Linked DNA regions of Homo sapiens: region 2 is linked to region 1. Evidence: fine-mapped expression QTL. Tissue or cell type: whole blood. Region 1 holds a variant in brackets; the other region holds the start of a gene. All regions are shown on one strand. Distances are from middle to middle.

Region 1 (5,149 bases):
ACATGTAAACATTATGTGTATTTTACCACAATGAGAAAAAGACAGCACTATTTCCAGCATGTATGATAGCCAATGGTTAATATCCCTAATATATAAAACACTGTGATAAATCTACAAGAAAAATATAAACACGACTGCCAAAATAAAGATATAAAACAAAAATTCAAAAAGAACAAATGTGAATGACTGTAAACATGTTAAAATGTCTAACCTCACAACTTTAAAAAGAAATTAAAATTAATACAAGAAGGAATATCATTTTTTGCCCTTTCAAAATGGGCAAATATTTAAGAAACTGGCAATATTAATATCCAGGATTGACAAGTCAATGGAGAAATGAACTGTTTCATCCACTGCTGGTAGCCATGTAAGGAGTAAAAGCTCTCTGAAAATCAAGTAACACAAACCAATGTTGCAAATGTGCATCATTTTAACCCCGAAGTGCAACTTTCAGAAATTCAGCCTAAGAGAGCGAAGTGTATATAAAAAGATATTAATTGCATTATTTCCAAAAACTATGAATTGAAAACAACCTAAATCCCCAATCAGAAAGAATCCATTAATTAAATCTGTAGTAATATTTAAAATGTCCCCACATACTGTTAAGTAAAGAGACAGCAAGAGATTGAGATCATAAAATAGCATAGCATAGTTTCTGTATTCCAGAAACACACTTTGGTAGATATATTTACTTAGGAAAAGAGGATTGTATAGAAAAAAGTGATCATTGGAGAAATTATCTGTTTATTTTCTATATTGTCTAAGTTTTTTACAAAGAGCCTGCAGTAATTTTAATCAAACGGAATACTATGGCTATTTTCATTGGCTAGAAAGTAAAAGCGTAAATCGCTGGTGTCCGCAGTTGGATGTCTGGGCAAAGCTGACCAATTGAGCCCAAAGTTGGAGTAGTAAATCCCCAAGGGCAAAGCCTCCATTTCCAAGTCTGCTTCTGACCCCTTGTGCTTAAGTCTTCATTTCTTTAAATGACATGGAAACTACATTTTTCTTATGGAATATGTTGCCAAGGAAGCAGAGGTTCTCTAGATATTCCATCCACACACACGCTGCATGCCCCACACACATACACACCATACCACTCAGAAACTTCCACACATGCAATAGACAACACACATCACACACACACATACACACACACACACACACACACACACACACACACTAGAAATCCTCACTAGCGGGCACCTCCCATCCAGTCAGACCCACAGGACACCCATCTCAACAAATGCTTAAGTTGAGCTCCAGTCCAAAGTCTAATCAAAATCCCACATGAAGACTTAGCAGGATTTTGAACTGGGCAATGTCCCTGTCATTAGCTAGCCATTTCTAAATGCAGAGACCAAACCCACCAAAATATTCCTTAATTCTCCTTCTTGATTCTTTATCTACAGAGACCTCAGCCCACAGGGCTGGGAGGTGGGAAATCCAGGAAGCCAGTTCTTCTGGGATGAGGCCTGGACGAGCAGTCAGAGTACCTCATCCCAGCTCCTCCCTGTAAGACTCTGTGCATGTTGTTTCCACTGTCTGGGCCTCAGTTTTCCCATCTGTGAATGGGATTATTAACCCTTATGCAAATCCTTCTTGGGAGAATGGAATGAAGCATGGCAAAGCCCAGATGCACCTACGGTGCTCCTGTAGACATCCTCTCCACCTTTGAGGGAGGGTTGACCTCAGGACTAGTGGACAGCACACATGAGAGCTAGGTGTGCCCACTTCCACCAGCTATGGCAGGGAATGCCTACCCCCTTCTTGGCATTCCCCACCCCAGCCCAAGCTAGGGCCGGCCTGGTAAACGTTGTCTTCTTAGCCAGCTAACTTAAGCACCTTCCAGGGGCTCTGAGCTCTGACTAGTATTGAGGCAAACGACCACAGAGGGGCCAATCAGCTCTTCTCCGGTTTCCAGCTGTGGGGACTGGAGAGAAATCAATATGCACACAGCTCAGATGGGAGTAATCAAAGCGCCAGGGCTGATGCCACCCCCCTCTTTCTCACAGAGAGGTTTTAAGCCAAGCCCAGCCCTCCTGCATGGACTGGCCCACGAGGAATTCCTGTAACTCCAAGACCAGCAAAAGGAGGTGGCTCAGACTCCCCAATGCCAGCAAGGGGAAGGAGGGAGTGGAGAGCAGATGTTCTTGGCCCAGGCTTTAGACCAGTGGTTCTCAACCCCAGCTGTGCATTGGAATCATCTGGGGAGCTTTTAAAAGCACAGATGCCCAGGGCCCACCCTCAAAGTTTCTGACTTAATTGGCCTGGGGTTCAGCCTGAGCACAGAGATTTTTAAAACATCTCCAGGTGGTTCCAAAGTGCACCAGGGCTGAGACTCACTGAAGTGGGTTCATTTTTTTTTTTTTTTTTTTTTTTTTTTGGAGACAGAGTCTCGCTCTGTCACCCAGGCTGGACTGCAGTGGTGCGATCTCAGCTCACTGCAACCCCCGCCTTCCGGGTTCAAGCAACTCTCCTGCCTCAGCCTCCTGAGTAGCTGGGACTACAGGTGTGTGCCACCACACCTGGCTAATTTTTTTGTATTTTAGTAGAGACAGGGTTTTACCGTGTTGCCCAGGCTCATCTCGAACTCCTGAGCTCAGGCAATCCGCCTGCCACCTCTCATCGGAATCTTTCCCCCAGATCCAAGGGAAGATGGTTTTCTTCCTGCTACACTAAGGGTCAGACAGAGAAGGCATGCTTGGGCATCCCTTGTAAGACAGGGACTGTATTTTGTTTATCACTGTATCCCCAGTGGCCCACCCATGCCTGGCACAGATGAAGGGCTAAATGAACACTAGTGGAATGAAATGTGTGTGAATGAGTGAATGAATGAATGAATCCCATTGCCTCCCACCTCTCGAGTGCCCTAGAACTTTCAAAGTGTGGTCTGCAAACCAGCAGCTTTTCATGACCAGGGAACTTGTTAGAAATGCAGATTATCAGGTCCTGTCCCAGATCCACTGAAAGAGAATCTGCATTTTCACAAGATCCCCAGGTGATTCATGTGCACGTGACCATATCATGAGTTCTCCCGTATATGAGCGGTTCTCCACCTTCACTGCACATTACAACTACCCATGAAAGTGTAGCTAGCCCACCCATGATCTCTGGGAAGTGCTTGTTAAGTGCTCCC[A/C]GGTGATTCTGATGTGCAGCCCAGGTTCAGAACCTATGTACCATAAGTCCCTCTGCCACAGCAGCCTCTGTGCAGGCTCAGCCTTGACTCCAGCCTACCTGGGAGACCCTCTCTTGACCATCGTACCCCCTCTTGGGATAAAAGCCAACCTCCCTGCAACCCAGGGACCACCCACTTAGCTCTACAAAGACCTCTGGGACAGACTGCCCCGTTCAAATCCAACCTCCGCTGCTTCCTAGCTGAGCGGCCCTGAGCAAGTCATTCAACTCTCCCATGCATCAGTTTCCCCGTCTGTACAATGGAGCTCATTGGGGAAAAAAATAAACTTACTACATTGGGTTGCATGACGATTCAATGGCTTAATTGATCTAAAGCACTTAGAACAGTGCCCCTTCCCTGAAGTTTTCTTGGCTTCTGTAACAGACTTCCGAATAAAAGAGTTTAGATAAAGAAAGGCCAGATTAAGAACCTCAATCCTGCAAACTCTGCTTCCATGAAGAGAGCAAATGAGAAGAAAAGATGGTGATAGTGTAGGGAAAATTAAGACTGAATGAAAAGGCTTAGCCATCTAGCCTATTTTCATTATTTGTGAAGAAAAATCAGCACCACTGAGTCCTTGGGGTCCCTAGGACTGGAACGATGGCACTAGAGGGAGGACTAAGGTTAACAAGGCCAGTTCCTCCCCCAAAATGCTCCCACTCCAGGAACACAGGCCTGCCTCACTGTGCTCAGGACAGGGGCAGCTCCATTCCTCCACAGCAGAGCTTCTCTGTGGATTCTTCCGTGACCTACACAGGGCTGCCTGGTTTCCAAGCCCTTCCCTAGGGCTCCAAACTAGGGTGTGTGTGTGTATGTGTGTGTGTATGTGTGTGTGGTGTGCTGCATGTGTTGTGTGAGGTGTGATGCGTGTGTGTGTGCAGCCCAGGTTTGGTCTGTGGGAGGGGTGTGTTATGTGGTGTGTGTGTGGTGTGGTGTGTGTGGTGTGGTGTGCATGGTGTGTGTGGTATGTGTGGTGTGTGGTCTGGTGTGTGGTGTATGTGTGGGTGTGGGTGTGTGTGGTGTGTAGGGGTGTGTAGGGGTGTGTGTGGTATGTGGGTGTGGTGTGTGTAGTGTGTGTGGTGTGTGGTGTGTGGTGTGGGGAGTGTGGGGGTGTTGTGTGTAGTGTGTGGTGTTTGTATGGTGTGGGTTGTGTGTGTGTGTGGCGGGGGGTGTGGGGGAGTGTGGGGGGTGTGTATGTGGCATGTGGTATGTGTGTGGTGTGTGGCATGTGTGTGGTGTGTGTGTGGTGTGTGGTGTGTGTGTGGTGTGTGTGTGGTGTGTGGCATGTGTGTGGTGTCTGTGTGTGGTGTGTGTGGCGTGTGTGTGGTGGGGTGTGGGGGGGTGTGGGGAGTGGTGTGTGTGTAGGGTGTGTGGTGTGTGTTTGGTGTGTGTGGTGTTTGGGTGTGTGGTGTGTGTGTGGTGTGTTGGTGTGTGGTGTATGGTGTGTGTGTGTGGTGTGTGGTGTTTGTGTATGCGGTGTGTGTGGCGTGTGTGTGTGCGTGTGTGGTGTGTGTGGTGTATGGTTTGTGTGTGGTGTGTGCGGTGTGTGTGTGTGGTGTGTGTGGTGTGTGTGTGTGGTGTGTGTGGTGTGTGGGTGTGTGGTGTGTGGTGTGTATCTGTGCGTGTGTGGTGTGTGCTGTGTGTGAGTGTGGGGTGTGTGTGTGTGTGTGTGTGTGTGTGTGTGTGTGTGTGTGTGTCGGGGGAGGGGTATACGCAGTTTCCGTGCGGAAAGATGGTGTCTTTCCTTCACAGGGCTGCGCGGGCACCCATCCCCGCTGCAAAGCGCCCGGGCCAGGCGCGGCTTGCTCCGGGTCGGGGCGAGCTCGCTGCCCTCTGCGGCAGACAGCGATGCGCGCTCCCCGCCCCAGCTCCCGGCTCGCCCGGCGGCCCGCGCGCCCTCCCGGTGCAGCATGCGGGCGCTGTGACGTTCTCGGATAAATGCCGTGTAACTGTGTAGGCGAATGAGAGCTAAAA
Region 2 (5,149 bases), 220 kb before region 1:
AGAGAGTGGAAAGGAAGATCGAAAGAAGAGCATGGCATCCTTTAGGACTAGGTATGAAGAAAGAGACAAAACCAACCCTGAGACTTCCAGACTGGGAGCTGGATGGATGATGACTCCCACCACCAGCCTAGACAGAGGCCAATGAAGAGGAACACGCTAGGGGGTTCAGCAGCCCCGAACTGCTAATGTTCACTCACCTGGGTGAGAGCTGTGACCCTGTTCCCCATGTCTGGGAGAATGGGAGGCTCATCGCCCACTTGAAAGTCAAAGTAGACGGTCTTGTGAGAGAAGGTGGAAAACTCATTACTGAAGCAAAACTGATAAACGCCCTTGACTTCAGCCCGGTACGTGAAGCTGTCGTACTGCTTCTTCGTTTCTCTGTAGATGGTGTTCCCCTGGGGGTCCTCTACATAGCAGTCAACATCGTAGTGGCCTCCAGTGATGACCTGACAACCATAAAAAAATTGCTGTTATCAAAGGAGCAACCACCACTTACCAAATGCCAACCAGACACTGTGATCAGACTCTACAAACATTTCTGTCACTTCATCTTCAAAACTTTCTAAGGCAGGTGCTACGCCACTTCTCATTTTACTAAGGCTGAGCAAGGTTAAATAAATTGGCTGTGGTCACACTGCTTGAAAGTGAAAGGGCTAAGATTTGAATCTATGCCTGCCTGACTCCCAAGTTTGCTCTGCAGGGTTTCAATGAGCCTAATCCTTTCCATTTTACAGAAGAAGAAACTGAGGTTCCAAGGTTAAGTAAATTCCCTAAGGTTACACAAGAGAAAGTGGTGAGATGAGATCTGCCTTGAGAGCTTTTGGTTCCAGTGCCTAAACATTTACCTATTGCACTATTCTGAAGCATGAATGAACATACCCCAGGATAACTGCTCTTCCTGAGATGGTGCTGATAAAGCTTCCCGAAATCAAGAGCAAGATGAGGAGGGATGTCCAAGAAACTATTCCAATGCAACTAGATGCCACCGATTCTTTATCTTTGTTCAATACTTAACACAAGACACACAGCAAATCACTGATTTAGGGCACTGCCACTCATTAGCCATGTGACCCTAGACAAGTTACTTTATTCTCTGAGGATATGTCTTTATCCATGAAGTGAGGAGTCAATAAGTTATCACACCTAAAGTGTTTAGCACGGTGTCCAACATAAATTTAGCAAGGGCCCCAAAAGTGCCAGCCAATTACTGGACAATCGTCAGACTGCAAACTAACCCCCTGGGGTTGCAGTGGAGATGTGGGATCTGATTTGGGGGCCACCCTAGAGCATGCATGCTGCACCTCCTGCTTCTCCGTTCCAATAACAGACAGGTGTTCCCCCTCCCCCCACCAGCAAGGGTCATTCTTGGCTTGCTGAATGGGTCAAGTAGCTATTAACAATATATTATTAATGACTGAATGCAAGGAGAAGAAAAATATTGATCGAAGTATTCATGGAATTTCTGAGTGTCAGCGGTGGAAGAGTCTTTGGGAATCATTTAGTTCAAACTCTCCTTGTAACATAAGAAAAATAAGACCCACATAAAGCAAAATCTCACAGGTAGGCAATGGCTATAACCAAGATCCATCAAAGGACACGGTCAATGGCCTCCATCTGCTTCCAAATTTAAATGGCCTCTTTGTCCGGACAAAAGTTACTAGTCCTGCTCAGCAAGCTTTGCAAAAAGCAGTGAGTATCCTGTTGCTAAGTGTGTTTAAACCCAGGCTGGACACACTTTGACAAGGGATTTCCGCCCTGGCAGTGACCAGATGACATCTGAGGTCCCTGCAACCACAGAATTATCATTCTTTTTGTCATTGCACCTAGGTTGCCCATGTTAACCCAGTCACAATTTGCATGTTGTCCACAAAGACCTGAAAGTGGACAAATCAGTGACTGAGACTACCACATAGAAGTTGTCTCCAAGCGCAAGCTTCCTTCAGTGCCTCTAACCACAGAGGAACTGGTCAAATAGCTTGCCCCCATTCCTGCTGCCCGTGGCCCCTCATTTCTGAAGTGCCTATCAGCATGCGTCCACAAGCAGATAGCTGTCTGAGTATGATGCCCACTTGGCCCCCAACCCTAGACCTGCTCACTAAATATCGGGGCAGACTACTCACTCAAGACCTGCTCCTGTCACCTGTGGGCCACGGGATCTCTCAAAGGAGACAGGAATACAGGAACTGAGCTTTTCTAAGCCATATGGCAAGAGCCAAGTCTTGCAGCCACACCGCTCCTTGTAAACACCGCCAGGCCTCAATGGCTGCACTGATCCCTCCTTTCCAAAGTGCCCATTCTCACTTCTGCTGCCCTCACCTCACTCCAACTTTAAACGCTGGAGAGGGGAGGAATAAACTAAAACTATGAGCCCACTTCCTCTTGCTGCCATTTTTCAGTACTCGAAGGCACAAGGTGGTCTAAGAGACTGGGGTTAGAGAGCCTGTGTCCAGCCGATCAGAACTGCCGTTGGTTAGTGTCTCGGGGGCCTGCGGATATCTCTTTGGCCAGCTCCCCAGGCTGCGGGATCCGCCCTGGCGTCCCCATCCCGGGCTCGCACCTGCGGCGCTGACTACCTCCTCGCTGGCCAGGCTCGTCTCGGGTGGGCCCTGATGACCCAAACCTTCCTCCTCACGGGGAAGTCAACTGGTCTCCGGGGACTCCCACCCCATGCAGCCTCCCTGTAGCCTGTGGCTAATTCGAGCGCCTCCAGTCAGGGGCTAGCCAGTGTCCAGGTGAGACCTGGGAGTGGAGGGAGAAGGGAGCGCTGCCGGGCGCCCGGCCTCACCTGGTAATCCAGGGAGAACTTCACGCCCTGCTCCACCTCCTCGTGGAAGCACTGCTTGGCGTTGTCCGGCAGCTCGAAGGTGAGCTCGGCCCCGCAGGGCTGCTCGGCCCGGCGCAGGAGCAGCAGCAGAAGCAGCACGGAGGCGGAGCGCGGGACAGTGCTGCCCATGATGCTCTCGGTCCCGTCTCGAGGGCCGCGGCTCGGGCGCTGCGCCCCCGGCGGGCTGGGGCGACGACTACCGACCGGGTCCTAGGAGGATGTAAGGGGATAGACGTGGCACCAGCGGAGCTCTGCGCTTCCGGGAGGGCCGGCGGCTCAGTGCGCAGCCGCGCGCTCAAAGTGGGCCCGGGCACCTTCCGCCCGCTGCGCGTGCGCGCTGGCCGCGCTGCGCCAGGGGACACGCCCCCCCCACCCCCCCGCAACGCCTCTCCCGGCTCGGAGGGTGGGTCTCCGCGGAGGGGAGGTGGGGCTCCACCTAGCGCGCCCCTACCCAGAAGAGGGAGAAGCCCTCCCCGCTGTTCTGCGCGCTCCCGGACCCGCAGGGCTGAGCATCCCCCCAGGTCGACCCAGGTCCACCCTCCAGCTGCTGCAGCACGAAGCACGTGGGATTTTACTCCCTCTATAAGGCTCCGCTTTTGACAGGCTCTGTAACTTCAGTCTCACACTTCCCTCGAGAACCAGTCTCCTTGTCTTGAAATGGGTGTGCCCAAACCTAACATCCACAGTAGTTAGGGAGCTAGGTGAAAGATAAGGGAACGCTGGGAACCCGATTAACACTCCTTTCTTCATTCCCATACCCTTCCCAAGGTGAAAGAGTGTGCGAAGGGGGTGGGGAGTGGGGAGAGTAAGTAAAGACCCATCATTACACCTGCTCTGGGAAAAACACGAGCGTGCTCACACACAAACGATCTCATGAAAATCCAAGTAAAGTCTCGCAGCGACTTCAGGTATATTTTGGCTGTCAGGCTCGTTGAAAATTCTTTTTGCACAAAACTGTCATTTTTGCACTTTGACTTCTTAAAAGCTCTGAAAGCAGATAAATTGGTTTACTGTCTTACCCATGACCACTGACTTAAGATTCTTTTGTATAATCGTAACTATAGGTATAGTTTTATATTCACTGTGATCCAATAAACAAAGAGAAAAGACGTAGATTGTGATGTCGATACTCAATAAATAACTTATTCAGGAGAGCATTACTAGACGTGGTATATCTTGACTTCAGGAAAGAATGTTACTGCCCATATAGATTTCCGCTGGCCACATTCACTATGGATGAACACGCTAATGTGTGAAAGCAATCTGTAGGCTTGGAAATAACATGCATGCATAACATAGTTAATAATATTGACTGGCTCAGTGACAGGCATGGAAGAGGTGTTTAGTAGTGTCCCTTAAGCTTCCTTCCCTGGCACGGTCCTATTTCACGTTTTTTTTTTTTTTAGGAACTGATAGAAAACATGGAAGTAATAATCATCTGATCTAGATGAACTAAGTGGAGAAATAAATGACAGATATAAAACCACAATTGGCCGGGAGTGGTGGCTCACGCCTGTAATCCCAGCACTTTGGGAGGCTGAGGCGGGTGGATCACGAGGTCAAGAGATCGAGATCATCCTGGCCAATGTGGTGAAACCCCTTCTCGACTAAAAATACAAAAATTAGCTGGGGGTGGTGGTGCGTGCCTGTAGTCCCAGCTACTCGGGAGGCTGAGGCAGGGAGGCAGGGGTATTGCTTGAACCTGGGAGGTGGAGTTTGCAACCTGGCGACAGAGCAAGACTGCGTCTCAAAAAAACAAAACAAACAAACAAAAAAAAAACACGATTGCCCTGGCACAGGTGGAGTGCTCTGCTAAGACTAACAAAAAGAAATTTCGGGCTGGGCACCATAGCTCATGCCTGTATCCCAGTATTTGGGGAGGCTGAGGCAGGAGGATTGTTTGAAGCCAGGAGTTCGAATCTAGCCTGGGCAACATAGTGAAACCTCGTTTCTACAAAAACAAACAAACAAAAATTAACCAGGCATGGTGGTGTGGGTCTGTAGTCCCAGCTACTTGGGATGCTGAGGTGGGAGGATTGCTTGACACCAGGTGTCTGAGGCTACAGTGAACTGTGATTGCACTACTGCACTCCAGCATGGATGACAAAGGGAGACCCCATCTCTAAAAATCAAAATAAATTCCTCCGGATTAAATGTTAAGTCTTACATTTAAGTTCCAAGAAAACACCTGCATAAGTTCAGGGGAGGAGCTGACATTGAAGAAGCTCTAGTCAGAGCATGCAGGCTGTTGGCTGGGACACCTCGGTTCTCCTCCAAGCATCCTCTTACATCTAATAGGCTAGATTACTTCCTTATATGGCAGGT

What was found. PIP is the estimated chance that this variant, and not a neighbour inherited with it, causes the effect.
Region 2: it holds the start of TMED3, and the variant in region 1 is fine-mapped to the expression of TMED3 in whole blood (INTERVAL, PIP above 0.99).

What each region holds. Positions count from the first base shown.
Region 1 is chr15:79,091,591-79,096,739 of GRCh38, reverse strand. No RefSeq gene overlaps it. Among named protein-coding and RNA genes, the nearest start is that of RASGRF1, 3.4 kb to the right of the region's middle. The variant A/C (reference allele first, on the strand shown) is at 3,137.
Region 2 is chr15:79,309,054-79,314,202 of GRCh38, reverse strand. TMED3 (transmembrane p24 trafficking protein 3) reads right to left here and starts at 3,091. Exons shown (of 3, transcript NM_007364.4): 1 at 2,786-3,091; 2 at 198-446. The coding sequence starts at 2,953. RefSeq lists silencers at 2,918-2,987, 3,198-3,247.